Linked DNA regions of Homo sapiens: region 1 is linked to region 2. Evidence: fine-mapped expression QTL. A gene starts in region 2. The other region holds a variant in brackets. All regions are shown on one strand. Distances are from middle to middle.

Region 1 (2,915 bases), 36 kb after region 2:
CCCAGCTACTCAGGAGGCTGAGGCATGAGAATTGCTTGAGCCTGAGAGGTGGAGATTGCAGTGAGCCAAGATCTCGCCACTGCATTCCAGCCTGGGCGACAGAACGAGGCTCTGTCTCAAATAATTAATAATAATAATAATAAAAAAATAAGTGTAGAGCATGATGAAGTTTAACAAATGAATACTTTCATGAAGCTGCCACCCAGATCACAATATATTTCTAGCACCCCCAGAAGACTCCTTTATGTCCCCTTCCAGTCCTGTCCTGACTGTATCATCTCAATTTGGCCCATTTTGAACATTATGCAGATGGAATCATACAGTGTGCTCTCTTTTGTGTCTGTCCTCTTTCACTTAATATTACATCTGAGACTCATCCGCGCTATTGCATGTTCCAGTAGTTTGTTCTTTTCCAGTGCTGGGTAGTGTTTCCCAGTGTGAACCAACATACCACAATTTGCATGCCTGCTCTGCTCATAATGGACTTTTGGGAGGCTACCTGTTTAGGCTGTTATAAATACACCTTCTATGAACATTCTTATACATATTTTTTAAATTATTTTTGTTCATTTGACTTTTTGGTGTGCAATTCTATGGATTTCAACATGTGTATAGATCTATGTAACTACCACAATATCAAGATATAGTTGGTTCTATCACCCCAAAAACTCTCACCTACTGTCCCCTTAGAATCACAATCCCCTCCCCTTTCCCCAGTCCCTTACAGCTACTGATCTGTCTTCCATTACTATGGCTTTGGTCTTCTTGAGAATGCCATATAGATGGAATCATATAGCATGTAACTGTTGGAGACTGGATTCCTTCACCAAGATAATTCCTGTGGTATTCACCAACACAACAGGCATGCACCACCATAAGTTCGTCTCTGTCAACAACAGATCATATATATGACGGTGGTTCCATAAGATTATAAAACCTTATTTTTCCTGTACCTTTTCTGGTTTAGGTATGTTTAGATATACACAAATACTTATTTATCAGAACCTATCCCTGTCACTACACAGCGCCTGTCTGTACATTCCTTTTTATTGCTGACATTACTACAAGTCTTTGATGGACAGACTTCTACTGGTATAGTCAAGGGAGTGGAATTGCTTGATCGTAGGGTCTTCATATGTTTCACTTTAGCAGGTACAGCCAAATCGTCTTCCAAAGTGGTTGAGCCTGCAACGTAAAAGAGTTCCGATTGCTCTCTGCCTTCTTCACCATTTAGGAAGTATTCTGGTCAGTGTGTAGGTAACATTTTAGCTATTTTTGTGTGTGTGCATATAAATTACCTTTTAAGATTTGCCATAAATCATACAAAGAATTAGCCATCCTCTGCAGCAGATGCTGTTGGTGCCTGCGTGGACCCCTGGGATTCCTTTTACTGCCCCCAGCTGCTGCAGATGCGGTTGCTAAGGCTCACACCTTCAGCTTTATCCAGTGCTGCTCAGCAGTTGGGGCTGCCACACAATTTTCATCCTACCCCCCATCTCCCAAACACACACACGAGGCAGACAG[G/A]TTCACAATGTTGCAACTTATACTTCAGAGCTCCTGTGGGATGAGGCTGAGACAGGACTTCACCTGAATCCACATGCCTGTCTGGCTTTTCCTCCGGGCCCAGCCTACTTCCCTCACTCCCTTACAACACTTCCCTGTGAGCACTCTCCCAGTAAAGCCTTTGCACAAGCATCCCCGTTTTCAGCTCTGTTGCTAGGGAACCTGGCCCAGGACACTTTTGCGGCATCCATTTCTCCATCCTCCTTCTCCAAAGGCCCCACTTTCCACCTACAGGCTGTCTAGTTAGAAAAACATTTGACTGCAACTAACAGAAAACCTGATAAGCAATAGCTTAAACAAACAACTGTTTGTTTTTTTCCCGCAAACAGCTATAGCCTCACCATGACAAGTGCCAATTCAGTTACAGGTTTCCAGGCAGAAGCATGAGATAAATGAAATCACTCTCGATCCTCCCCTTGCCCTTCCAGCCCCTGCCACCCCTGTAAGTCCCTCCTAGTTTCTCCCTCTTCCCAGGCCCCCAGCTCTGAGGCCCAGTGACCTCTGAAATGCTCACGCCAGCCATTTCCAAAGAGTGTCCCCTAAGAATGTTCAGGTTCTTGGGGTGCTTCAATGACTCAGCATGCATAAATTAATATTTTATGCCAAATAGTAGAAAATTTTAAATCCTGACTAGTAATTTTTATCACTAGTCTAGTTAATAACTGGGCAGTTAATTTCATTAAATTTTTCTTTTTCTTTCTTTTTTCTTTGAGACAGAGTTTTACTCTTGTTGCCCAGGCTGGAGTGCAATGGCATGGCTTCGGCTCACTGCAACCTCCGCCTCCCGGGTTCAAGCGATTCTCCTGCCTCAGCCTACCAAGTAGCTGGGATTACAGGCATGCGCCACAACGCCCAGCTAATTTTGTATTTTTAGTAGAGACAAGGTTTTCCCATGTTGGTCAGGCTGGTCTCAAACTCCCAACCTCAGGTGATCGCCCGCCTCAGCCTCCAAAGTGCTGGGATTACAGGCGTGAGCCACAGCGCCTGGCCTATTTTCTTTACATTTTTCAAGACATCTTTCTAATTTTGTCTCCTCATAAGAAATGCTCAGGCCGGCACAATGGCTCATACCTGTAATCCCAGCACTTTGGGATGCCGAGGTGGGCAGATCACCTGAGATTGGGAGTTTGAGACCAGCCCAGCCAACATGGTGAAACTCTGTTTCTACTAAAAATACAAAAATTAGCTGGGCATGGTGGTGCACACCTGTAATCCCAGCTACTGAGGAGGCTGAGGCAGGAGAATCGCTTGAATCTGGGGGGCAGAGGTTGCAGTGAGCCAAGATTGAGCCATTGCACTCCAGCCTGGGCAACAGAGTGAGGCTCCGTGTAAAAAAAAAAAAAAAAGAAAAG
Region 2 (2,915 bases):
TACCATCACATGCTTCCTCTCTTCTAATTTCCACAGTCTGTGAACACCAAGAACAAAGACCTCATCCACTTCATCTCTGTATATCAAGCACATAGCACAGTCCAAAGGTCTGGGTAGGCAAATCAAGAAAAGACTGTTTACTCTTGATTCATCCAGTCCATTATTTTCACCCTTGGTGAACTAGGTTCAACCCCAATCACTGCCAAGTTGTTTTCTGAAAATTCACCAATGACCCTGTTCTCAGCAAGGTCGTGAATCACTGATAGACTCTGGAAGAGTGGAGTTTCCTTATCTTTGTATTCCCAAGGTGCTTAGTGAGGTAGCTTCCACACAGTAATCACCCATTAAAGGTCTGTCAACTTGAATAAGAAAGAAAATATGAACTGAGAGGACAGAATAGTCACTGCTGATCAGCAGGTCACGGATATTTCCTGAAATAAAAGTACCAAAAAAAAAAATCTGGAGACTGTTATCTCTATCGTTCCCAGATTCTAGTTTCCATAGCAAACTGTTCATTTAAACGAGAAGTGCAAACATCTCACCAAATTATCTTGGTCAAAGGCATGGAGAGTGAGTACGGGGAAGGGGGGCTCCCTTACCATGGGATAAAATCAATAGCACGTAAAACACATTAGGCTTTAACCCCAACCTTGGGCCAGGAGGGAGGCTGGTAGCTTGCAGAATGCACCCCAAGAAACTCCTTCCCCACCTTCTATTTTCTAGCGGCCCAAGTGAGATGTGGAAAGGTCCGCACCCTGCGGGCCGGCTGTGACTTGAAAACAGAGCCACTGGGCACCCCAAAAGCTTGCGTGCCGTGCCTGTGCGGAGCAAGGCCCCTTCAGCGCGGAGCTCCAAAGGCGCTAAGCCGGGCAGCCGGGTCGTCCTGAATCTGCGGGCTGCACACGCCCGCCGGGAGCTGCAGCGCCCGGAGCCCAGCAGAGCGGCCGCCGGCCGCAGCCGCAAACGCGTGGGGTGCAGGGCCGCGCCACCGCGGGGGAAAGACACGAAGAGGAGCTGAGGAACCGAGCGGGCAGAGACCACGAGAGGCCCCAGGTCGACGCCGCGCGCGCGGGCCCGGAAGAGACGGTCACGTGACACCGACCTGCTGGTCCCACTGCTGCTTCACATGTACGCCGGCCACTGTGGCCGCCGTCAGCAGCACCGAGAGGCCCAGCACCACCTTCGAGCTCCTAGACATCCCCACGCTGGCGGCCGCGGCCTCTCTCTCCCGCCCGCCCGAGGCGCAGAGGCCGCCGCAGAGTGCGCACCGCCGCCTGTACTGCCCAGGCTCGACCCCTCGAGCGCAGAGCCCCAGCCGTCGCGTGCGCCGCTCGCCGCTGCCAGGCGTGAGCAATCGAGAGCCGAGCATAGAGCGGCGCCCAGGCTCTACGAACTCTTGGCTTCACTAGGGGCCTCCTGCACACCCCGCAGGCGACAGCGTTAGACCACCCCCGATTCAAATTCTAGGAGTCCCGGCCCAAACTGGCCCCGGCACCTTACCAGGGTGGAGGGTGGGGGTTCCATGCCCCTCAGTCAGTTCAGTACCAACCTCACCCCGGGCGGGGTCTGGATACCGTGCTGACCCCTCTCCCACAGACGTCCCTTCTGAGCCCCTGACTGATCCAGAAGCTTCGCCCAATACCGGCTTCGCCTAAACGCAGCCCCCTCATTGCTCCTTTGGCGGGGCAGGCGCCACCAGGAGACCGCCTCGTTAGGCAGCTTCAGAGGCGCGGGGTTCCCATCCGTGGAGTTTTTGCCTGAGGACCCATTATTAAACGCTGTAGTCGCGGTCACCTGGTTTCACCTTGACGCTGTGGGGCGACTGGTCAGGCTCGGATTATTATTATTATTATTATTATAATTTTGATACAGAGTCTCTGTCTATCGCCCAGGCTGGAGTGCAGTGGCGCGATCTCGGCTCACTGCAACCTTACCGGATTCAAGCGATTCTCCTGCCTCAGCCTCCCGAGAGGATTACAGGCGTGAGCCACCGCGCCTGGCCCCATGTAATCTTTGTGATCACTTTTACACCCAAGTTTCCGCGCCAGTAATACAAGGGAAATAAATGATATAAAGAAGTCTTGCGTTGGGAATAGTTAAGCAATTGTGCAAGACGCATTTTCACTTCTTCCTCGGGTAAAAAAGGCAAGGCCTCCCAGAAACTTTTAAGTATCTGATAGAGCAACCAGTGAAAACGTGTTCATCATTCAATCATTCTTTCCCACTAGAATTCACAGAGAACGAGCTTCTTCCGGTGGACACGGCTATAGGCAGTATTGATTAAGCCTCACCAGGGAGTTTTACAACATTCATTACTGTTCATAGTGCTTTGCTATTCCAGTCTCTTATGTGAGCGTAAATGGCATAAGGGGACTATTGCTCTTAAAGGTATCTTTAAAGATACCTTTTCCAAATGTCATTTTGTCCACAGCATTTTTTGCAGCCTAGAGAGAATGTACCACTGAATTGGAAAATGGAGTTCTTGCTGTAATGAACTTTGAGAAGAAATTCAGTTCAGGGTGTATTTGCATATTTCTCTTTAAAAATTATATTAGACTTCTTTTTATTCGTGGTATATCCTAGATATTTTCCCCTGTAAATCAGTGAGCCTTCAACAGAGCTGTATGTCCTTAGAGTGTACATCAGGGAATTAGATCAATCGCCTTTCATTTTATTGTGACTAATTTTTCAACTTGTTTTCTTGAAATGTACTCTTTTCTTTATTTTCAGGATACTAGAAGCAAAAAAAAAAGTATTCTACTTTTAAGAAATCATTTATTATTAACTGTGTCAAATAAAAAAGTGGGTTGGGGGACTGAGGGAGGTCTTGCAAAAAAAAAAAAGTATGTTTATCTGTTTAAATATTTATAAGCCTAAGCAGTATATTTTCCGTGATTATTGTCGCATAAATTACT

Direction of the effects. Positions count from the first base shown, and alleles are read on the strand shown. Sizes are in standard deviations (SD) of each study's normalised expression.
With allele G in place of A in region 1, the expression in prefrontal cortex of the gene that starts at base 1,291 in region 2 is lower (small effect, 0.23 SD a copy in GTEx).

Evidence for each region. PIP is the estimated chance that this variant, and not a neighbour inherited with it, causes the effect. A credible set is the group of variants that fine-mapping cannot tell apart.
Region 1: its variant is the best candidate, but not a certain one, in a credible set for the expression of KAT14 in prefrontal cortex (GTEx, PIP 0.54).

What each region holds. Positions count from the first base shown.
Region 1 is chr20:18,100,394-18,103,308 of GRCh38, reverse strand. No RefSeq gene overlaps it. Among named protein-coding and RNA genes, the nearest start is that of KAT14, 36 kb to the left of the region's middle. The variant G/A (reference allele first, on the strand shown) is at 1,525.
Region 2 is chr20:18,136,239-18,139,153 of GRCh38, reverse strand. It overlaps KAT14 (lysine acetyltransferase 14), which reads right to left and starts at 1,291. Exons shown (of 11, transcript NM_001392073.1): 1 at 1,103-1,291. It overlaps PET117 (PET117 cytochrome c oxidase chaperone), which reads right to left and starts at 1,291. Exons shown (of 2, transcript NM_001164811.2): 1 at 1,103-1,291. The coding sequence starts at 1,198. RefSeq lists a silencer at 803-922.